2 separate regions of the Homo sapiens genome follow, and region 1 is linked to region 2. The links come from fine-mapping of genetic effects on gene expression. A gene starts in region 2. The other region holds a variant in brackets. All regions are shown on one strand. Distances are between the middles of the regions.

Evidence for each region. PIP is the estimated chance that this variant, and not a neighbour inherited with it, causes the effect. A credible set is the group of variants that fine-mapping cannot tell apart.
Region 1: its variant is the best candidate, but not a certain one, in a credible set for the expression of POLN in whole blood (TOPMed, PIP 0.77).

Annotation. Positions count from the first base shown.
Region 1 is chr4:2,169,779-2,174,162 of GRCh38, reverse strand. POLN (DNA polymerase nu) reads left to right here. Exons shown (of 26, transcript NM_181808.4): 11 at 144-208; 12 at 2,982-3,065; 13 at 3,389-3,484. Among named protein-coding and RNA genes, the nearest start is that of HAUS3, 70 kb to the left of the region's middle. RefSeq lists an enhancer at 1-718. The variant C/G (reference allele first, on the strand shown) is at 1,948.
Region 2 is chr4:2,240,193-2,244,500 of GRCh38, reverse strand. It overlaps POLN (DNA polymerase nu), which reads left to right and starts at 2,380. Exons shown (of 26, transcript NM_181808.4): 1 at 2,380-2,450; 2 at 2,711-2,981. It overlaps HAUS3 (HAUS augmin like complex subunit 3), which reads left to right and starts at 2,380. Exons shown (of 6, transcript NM_001303143.2): 1 at 2,380-2,450; 2 at 2,711-2,981; 3 at 3,408-4,308. The coding sequence starts at 3,555. It also overlaps the pseudogene COX6B1P5. RefSeq lists a silencer at 1,950-2,309 and enhancers at 2,990-3,089, 2,696-3,197.

The DNA.
Region 1 (4,384 bases), 70 kb after region 2:
TGTGCAGAGGTTGGCATGCAGCAGGTGCTGAGTAAATGGCAGTTGCAGTCATTATTGTCCTCATCAGGGAGCGAAGCATTTTAGTCTTTAGTAAAAAGAATACATTAATGCAAATATGATCTGGTTTGGGTTTCGAATCACAGTGATGGAAAGCCATGCCATTCAGGTGAACAAAGAGGAGATGGAGAAGACGTCAGCACTTCTTGGGGTAAGTTATTATTCCAGATGGTTTGTACTGGCCATCTCTTTCCTGCATGAGATAGTTGTTCCCAGTGGCAGGTCTAGAGTAGATTCTCCTTTTCTTCTCTTCCTTGTTTGGTGTTGACAGTGTTTCTCCCTCTTTCTGACGCCTGCAGGGGAGAACCAAGCATTGAAAAGACCTAAACAGCATCTAGTGCGTGTGTGTCCGGGGAGTTCTTTAATGGCTCCTCAGGATCCTCCTCAAAAGTTACGTTTTTCTTACAGGGACATTGTCCCCTGTAGTTTGGTGAAGGAATTCTTGGGTTTCTTGAAAAACAAAAATACAGAGATGTGTAAAGATGCATGAAAAAATACTTAAAAATGCTCTACTTCAGTTTTCTTAAGAAAACACATGTAGGTGGAGAGTGGGAAAATAGACACAGAGACTGGGAAGGGTGAGCAGTGGCGGGGCGGGGCAAAGATGAAGAGAAGCAGGCTAAAGGGTGCAAACATACAGTAAAATAAAAGAAATAAATTCAGTGTTTGATAGCAGCGTAGGATGACTGTACTTAACAAAAAGGTATTGAACTTGAATGATGGGTGCTCTGAATACCCTGACGTGACCACCACACATTATATACACGTAATACATTTTCTCATGTACCTCATACATCTGCACAAATTTTTAAAAAGGCTAAAGCACATGCCAGGAGCATCTTTAAAATAAAATGTTTAAAGGAAACCCCAATATAACCATCACCTGGTTCAAAGCACAGACTTTCCAGAGTCCTGTGTGCTTTCCCTATCAGAACCCCTTTCTTGCTGCCAAAAGTAACTGCAACCCTGACTTTTGTAGCCTTTTCATCGTTGCTTTTCTTTCTAGCTTTCCCACTTCAAAGCCTAAGCAATGTAGTTTAGCTTTGCTTTTGAACTGTAAGTAAACAGTGACTTACGTGTGGCCTTTTACCCAGCCTTCTACATCTCAGCTCCACCTGTGTTTCTGTGTGTCACTCAGTGCTGTGGAGTTTCCCGCTGTGGACTGTGCTGCCCTTGGTGTCTCTGTCCCACTGCCGATAGGCGTGTGGTTGTTTCCAAGTGGCAGTCGTTACAAACCACGCTGTACCTCTGAGTGCATTCCCTGTGCCTGTGGGCACAGGTTTCTGTGGGCTGTGAGGTGACTAGTGCTGCTGGGACACAGGGAAGCTGTTGCTTAGTTTTATTCAATAATGCCCAATGGCTTCCCAGAGTCTCACCCATGAGAATGCATACGGGATCCCATTCTTGCACATCCTCACTTCCCCTGGGTGCATCAGACTTTTACATTGTAGCCATTTTGGTGAGGCTATAATGATATCTCATTATGAGTTTTGTTTCTATTTTCCTGATTACTAATGTCAACCAAGAAGAGGTGAAAGAGCAGACTGCAAAGCAGTTAGACAAGGCATTCCTGGGGTCTTAGAAACTGCAATTCAGGAGACACAGGTTCAGCTAAAGGCCAATAAGTGTTCTGAAGAGAGGAAGGGGAGTTGAGATTTTTAAAAGGAAGCTAAGGGCGAATACACAGTTGTTGTGAAAGAATTATCATTGTTGGAGGCGGTTGGCTTAGTACATGAGTCCGTTGAGCTCATTGGTTGTCGCTCTTCAGAAGGTGCAGCACTGGCAAAATCTAGCTGTTTTCCAGGATGTTGTGGTCATTGCAGTTGAGCCCAGTTCAGAGGTTCAATTCAAGTTCCTGTTTTTTGTTTTTGTTTTTGTTTTTCAGCATTT[C/G]AGGTCATGCAGGCAGTCCTTAGAATGGCTCCCTGACTCTACTTTAGAGCTCTGGACCAGAGTGATATCATTTTTGTATGTCACATTTCACATTAGTGGGATCGATTAGCTTTTCATAGCATCATTAGCTTTTAGGAATTTCTTTTTGTAAAGGATCTGCTCAAGTCTTTTGCCCATTTTTATATTTTTTCTTACTGATGTATAGGATATCCTGATGTATTCTGGATACAAGCCTGTTTCCTATACTTTCTACCTCTGTCTTGTTCTATGTGATGTTGGATCCCTTTTCTAGTCTTAATATTGTTGGAGAATTGATTCTTTCTTTCCCATTATTTTTACTACTTTAAGTTTGTTTTCTTACCTTTGGGGGAGGATGCTTCTATGAGCCTAGGTATTTCACCATGAGGCAAAATATGTTTATTTTTATTTTTATTTTTTTGTAGAGATGAGGTCTCACTATGTTGCCCAGGCTGGGCTCAAACTCCTGGGCTCAAGACACCCACCTGCCTCGGCCTCCCAAAGTGCTGGGATCACCGGTGTGAACCACCGTGCCTGGCCAAAGTGTGTATTTTTATGCTTATTTTGATAAATTATAGGTTATTTATTACTCTTTTAAGAGCTTTCTTTGGGAATTTTGTGTGTATGTGTTTGTTTGTTGAGACAGTGTCTCACTGTCACACAGGCTGCAGTGCAATGGCACAGTTATAACTCACTGCAACCTTGAACCCTCGGGTTCATACAATCCTCCCACCTCAGCCTCCCAAGCAGCTAGGACCACAGGTGTGTACCACCATGCCTGGCTAATTTTTTTTTTTTTTTTTTTTTTTTAGTGGTGGGGTCGCACTATGTTGCCCAGGCTGGTCTCAAACTCCTGGTCTCAAGTGATCCTCCTGCCTCAGCCTCCCAAAGGGCTGGTATCACAGGCATAAGCCACCGTGCCCATCTCGCTGTTGAGAATTGTTTGATGAACAAATTAAACAATCTTAAATTGTGAAAACTATGAATGAAATTAATTGTGTGTATCATATTTTCAGGCTCGTCTCAAGGAATTGGAGCAAGAAGCTCATTTTGTTGCAGGAGAACGGTTTCTTATAACGAGCAATAACCAGCTTCGAGAGGTAAAGCTGAATTTTGGTTCTTTCATAAAATGTATTTCTTATTCAGGAGTTAAAGGGAGATTTATTTTGAATTTATAAGTATTATTTTATGTCAACTATCTGAAAAGTAAGTTTTTCATGTTCTCTCACAAGTAATGAACACATTGAGATTCATTACTTCAAAGCCTTTAACTTGTAGAAAAGTACTAAATGAGAATTTAAGCATGTTGTAATGTCTGTTTGGGTGTGTCTTCTCTGGCTGTTGGCATGGGCTCTGCTATAGTAATGTTCTGTTTCTCTCAAATGTGAGATTCCCTCACCATGTTTAATTTGTTTTGTTGAAGATCCTCTTTGGCAAGTTAAAGCTGCACCTGCTGAGTCAAAGGAACAGTCTCCCCAGAACGGGGTTGCAGAAATACCCGTCTACATCAGAAGCAGTGGTAAGGTTTCAGAGTTATCCTTTTTCTTTTTAGAATGACAGCATGTCTGCACCACATGTGTGCTGACCTTCAGACCCACCCGAGACTCTCAGGCCGTCCCCTCATGCTGGCAGCAGTTTCTGCAGAAGAGGGGCTCCCCACACCAAGGTTGCTTTTCTCGCTATGGACCAAGGGAGAGAGGCAGACAGTACACTTTTGCAGAAGCAGTTAATTGGCTTGACTTCCTGAAAAGCATAATTTGGTGGAGTTTTGTTCTTAAAACCAATTTCTTGACAATCCAGTCACAACCTCTTTGCTTCGTGTCCCCAAGAGGAACTAGAAACGGGTCATCAGTCTTCTCCTTTCCTCAGATTTATTTTAGAGAATTTTACCTACCCCTCTCTTGAGAGGAATCAATTTTTTTTGAAGACAAGGAGTAGTGAGATTGTGCTGTGTTGGAGTGGGAGAGTATAGATCGATATTCAGAAGACAGTGAGTGCTTTTACTGAAAAGACACAGAGTGGAAGTCAGTAAATAAGTGAATTCATGTTATTGTGAATATTGGTTACTGTGGTGAGAACCAGCTTCTGAGGCTCCAGTTTGTGCTTTCTGTGCTCTGTCCAGCATTCGACTTTGTAACAGAGGAAGGTTTCCTTCTAAGATGTCTCCTCTGGCCCTATTCCCTCTCCAGCACCACGTTCCTCCAGTCTCCGCCCTGTGAGGGTGTCTTAGAGTACAGGCCCTCAAGGAGCCTGAGCTCGTTGACTGTGCCTGCACTTGGCCTTTGCTGGTTTAATGGACAGTTACTGGGTGAATAATGGACTCCCACAGAGGATGCTCCACTGGAGGGACTTGAAACTGCCCTCTTCCAAATCCTCTTCTTCTTCAAGCTTTCTCCACCTTAGTGAAGGGCCCGTCCTC
Region 2 (4,308 bases):
TACTCCAGGGGCTGATACTGTTGTAATTTTTACTTAATGGTTTTATGGCTTTTATGGTCTCATAAACACCTTTCCAACAAATAACTATGGTCAGCAATTCAAAATCAGATGGAGAATTAATTTGTGGCCCAAGAAACCACCCAGGAGTCACTAGGAAAGTGGGTTTCTAGAACGGCCTCCAGGGCTCTGGAGTGCACCCCTCCTGCCCTCCAGGGATCTCTTTCTATAAAGGAGCCCCTTGTCTTTCTGCCGTCTTTAATGCTGTCTCCTCAGAGTTCCTCCTTGCAGTCTATAAATATCCCCGAGTTCCTCTCATTTTCAAACAAAACAAAATAAAAAATCCTCCCCTCAGCCCTGCATTCCCACCCCCTCAGCTTGTGTTGTTTTGCATGCTCGCTCTCTGTCTTTCTCCTCTCTCTCTCTCTCTGTGTCTCTGTCTGTCTCTGTCTCTCTGTCTGTCTCTGTCTCTATCTGTCTCTCTGTGTCTCTGTCTCTCTGTCTCTGTCTCTGTGTCTCTGTCTCTCTGTCTCTGTCTCTCTGTGTCTCTCTGTCTCTGTCTCTGTCTCTCTGTCTCTGTCTCTCTGTTTCTGTCTCTCTCTGTCTCTCTGTATCTCTCTCTCTGTGTCACACTCCTCCCACCCAGTCTTTGCCTCATCAGCAACATTTCTGGAAGGCATTGCCTGCACAGCTCCCACTTCCTCCTGTCCAAACTGGCTCAACTCTGCCCCCTGATGCACACCCCCAACCTCCAACCCTGGGCTGCAAGGGTCCTCCCACCAGGCCTCCCCGTTCCAGCATCCCTGGTTTCCTTGCCTGCAGATTGGGCACCACTCTTTGAATTTTTTCCCATCATGTTTGTTTTTCAGATCATTTTAGGCCTTATTGACTTTTAAAAGAGGAGGAAAAAAACGTGAAACAAGTGAAGAATGAATAGGAAATATCTTTGACTCGATCAGATTACAATATTTGCCTTAGAACATTCTTATTTCTCTCCTTAAAAATATTAAGAAAAACTATCCAAACGACTTCTACCTAGTCACCCTGGACTAGGACATTGTCTAACAAGCCACCTTTAGGGTCATTTGACGCTGAAGGGAGGGAGTACTATTATATTTACCCATGACCAAAGCCCCTGCTAACCTGTGGAAGACTGAGGAGTGGCAAAGGATTTTTGTTTGGTAGAGATGCAAACGAATTCTGTCCAATAGAGAGGTCTGGTTTCACTGGGCTGTAGGGCATCAGCCAGATTCACATGAAATTTAGCAATCCCGTTTCAGTCATCTTTCACTGACTGCCATCCTCTTTGGAAATGGTGTACCATCCTCCTTGAGTTAAATATATCGATGTATTTAACTCAGGCCATTCCGTTTATTTCTAACATTTTGAAAAGGGAATTGTGGAGGAAGTCAGCTTTTTTTTTTTTTTTTTTTTTGAGACGGAGTCTTGCTCTGTCGCCCAGGCTAGAGTGCAGTGGCGTGATCTCGGCTCACTGCAACCTCCACCTCCTGGGTTCAAACGATTCTCCTGCCTCAGCCTCCCGAGTCGCTGGGATTACAGGCGCCCACCACCGCGCCCGGCTAATTTTTGTATTTTTTAGTAGAGATGGGGTTTCACCATCTTGGCCAGGCTGGTCTCGAACTCCTGACCTCATGATCCCCCCCCCCCCCCCCCCCGGCCTCCCAAAGTGCTGGGATTACAGGCATGAGCCACCGCGCCCGGCCAGAAGTCAGCTTTTACATAGTGTTCTGGTGAGGGATTAGAAATTAAGTGTTTTTGCAAAATAAAGTTCATTGTAAAAGACTCTAAGCGAACAATCCCTAACCCTTAAAATGTACCAGGCATTGGTCGGGCTGCTGTGAATGTTCCGGGAACTCGTCTCTCTCGGGGGCGAGCGCTATCACCGCCGGGCTCCAGCCTGTCTCCCAACCACCAACCTGCGCTGCTCTTTGTACCATTCAAAAGTGCCTTCAGAGGGTCTAGATTGAAGTACGGGGCAGGGCAGGCCTGAAGCACAACTGACGGCTCCGTTGAGAGCAGGCCCGCAGCTTCAGCTCCCCAGAGGGCGCCCCACCGCACCCCTCTGCACCCCTCTGCACCCCATTCATTGCCCAGGCTCCGCCCCCTGCCCAGGCCCCGCCCCTGTCCAGGCCCTGTCCCCGCCCTTCCCGGCCCAGACCCCGCCTCTCTCTGCCCTGCGCCCCGCCCAGGAGGCAGGATGCCCGCAGCGGCCGGGGGCCGAGCGCCGCCTGCTCAGCTCCACCCCATAGTCCAGCCTCGCCGACTCCGCCTCTTTTGACACTACGCCTGCGCAAACAGTCATCCCCCACGACCACGCCGTCGCCTTGTGCGCTTGCGCGCGTCCAGGCGCTCCCGTGAGGCAGTGCGAGGCGCGCGGGGCACGGAGGGCGGTGGCGGCGGGCTCCTGCGAGAAGCAAGCGGAACTTCCTGAGGTGACTGACGCGGGCCTCGGTTCTGGGCGCAGGGGTGTGGGGCTGGAGGAGTGGCCGCGATCCCCGTCTGCACCCAGGTGCCTCTTTTTTTTCCTGCGCTCCTGGGGGCTCCTTCCAGGTGCTCCAGCAGCTGCCCGGGGATCAGGGCCCGGTCCGCTGGGCGAGGAGCTGGGGCGGGGGCTGTGCGGGGCCTGTCACCCCCGTCTTCTGCAGCTCGGTGTCGACGGCGATTCGGTGGGCTTGTGCGTTTGTTTTGTCAGCGTGCTTAGGTGTCACAGCTGGGTGACCCTCCGAAGGAAGGTTTTGCCGCTGGCGCGTCTGGTGTATCGCGGCCTTGGGGCCGCGGATCCCTGGGGCTTGCCGCTGCCTCTGGGGTTCGCGCGGCCCTGGCGTCGGGGCTGCCTCAGCGCTGGCTGAAGGCCGGCCCGAAGCACCCTTAATTGTGGCCGCGCGCTTCCCTGCTGCTCCTGCTGTTCTCCGCGTCGCGGTGGTGGACTCTGGAGGTGGAGCCTTGCCCGGCGAGACGTTGAGGTAAATATTTAGTTGATCTTCAGAAGATGTGCCATGCTTATTTGCGTCTTCTTACGTACGGAGGGCAGGGAAGAGAGGCTGCCTAGCCTCCTGGTGGCTTGGGTTTGTTTGGATCCATTTATTTTGAATTAAAAACAAATGCTGCTCTATAAAGTGTAATGCATTTTAAACCATTTTATCTTTGGAAAAAAAGATAAAATGGATCCAAATAGATCCACTTTCTTGTTAATTACTTTTCGTTACTGTTGCGGTTTTCTGAGAACTAGCCTAATTGTTTCTGTTTCTCTTTATCATCATCAAACATTGCAGCTACGACTACCTGTCATTTATCCCGCTCTCGGATATCATGTGATATTTGTCTGTGTCTTCTTTTTAAAAACACTGTCGTCATATTTGTGGTCTAATACTTGTTTTCTTCCCCCCTAGGAGGAATCATTATAGATTCTAAAAATATATTTTCCCTTCTCTGTGGACTTGGTATAAAACGTAGCTTTTTTTCTGCTTGGATTTATTTTCTAAAAATCAACACCGTAAACCCATATCAGATACAACAAAATTGGGGTAGTTAAAACCATGAGTTGTGGAAATGAGTTTGTGGAAACATTAAAAAAAATTGGTTATCCCAAAGCTGATAATCTTAATGGAGAAGACTTTGACTGGTTGTTTGAGGGCGTTGAAGATGAATCGTTTCTGAAGTGGTTTTGTGGGAATGTGAATGAACAGAACGTGTTGTCTGAAAGAGAATTGGAAGCTTTTAGCATTCTTCAGAAATCAGGCAAGCCTATTCTAGAAGGGGCGGCATTGGATGAAGCTCTTAAAACGTGTAAAACTTCTGATTTGAAGACACCTAGACTGGATGATAAAGAGCTGGAGAAATTAGAGGATGAGGTTCAAACTCTACTGAAATTAAAGAACCTAAAAATTCAGCGACGTAATAAATGTCAATTGATGGCTTCAGTAACTAGCCACAAATCTCTGAGGTTAAATGCTAAAGAAGAAGAAGCCACTAAAAAGCTGAAGCAGAGTCAAGGAATTCTAAATGCAATGATCACTAAGATCAGTAATGAACTTCAGGCTCTTACTGATGAAGTTACACAATTGATGATGTTCTTCAGACATTCTAATTTAGGTCAAGGGACAAATCCACTGGTATTTTTATCGCAATTTTCCTTGGAAAAATACCTAAGTCAGGAAGAGCAAAGCACAGCAGCATTAACTTTGTATACCAAAAAACAGTTCTTTCAGGGTATACATGAAGTAGTTGAAAGTTCAAATGAAGACAATTTTCAACTTTTAGATATACAGACACCATCTATTTGTGATAATC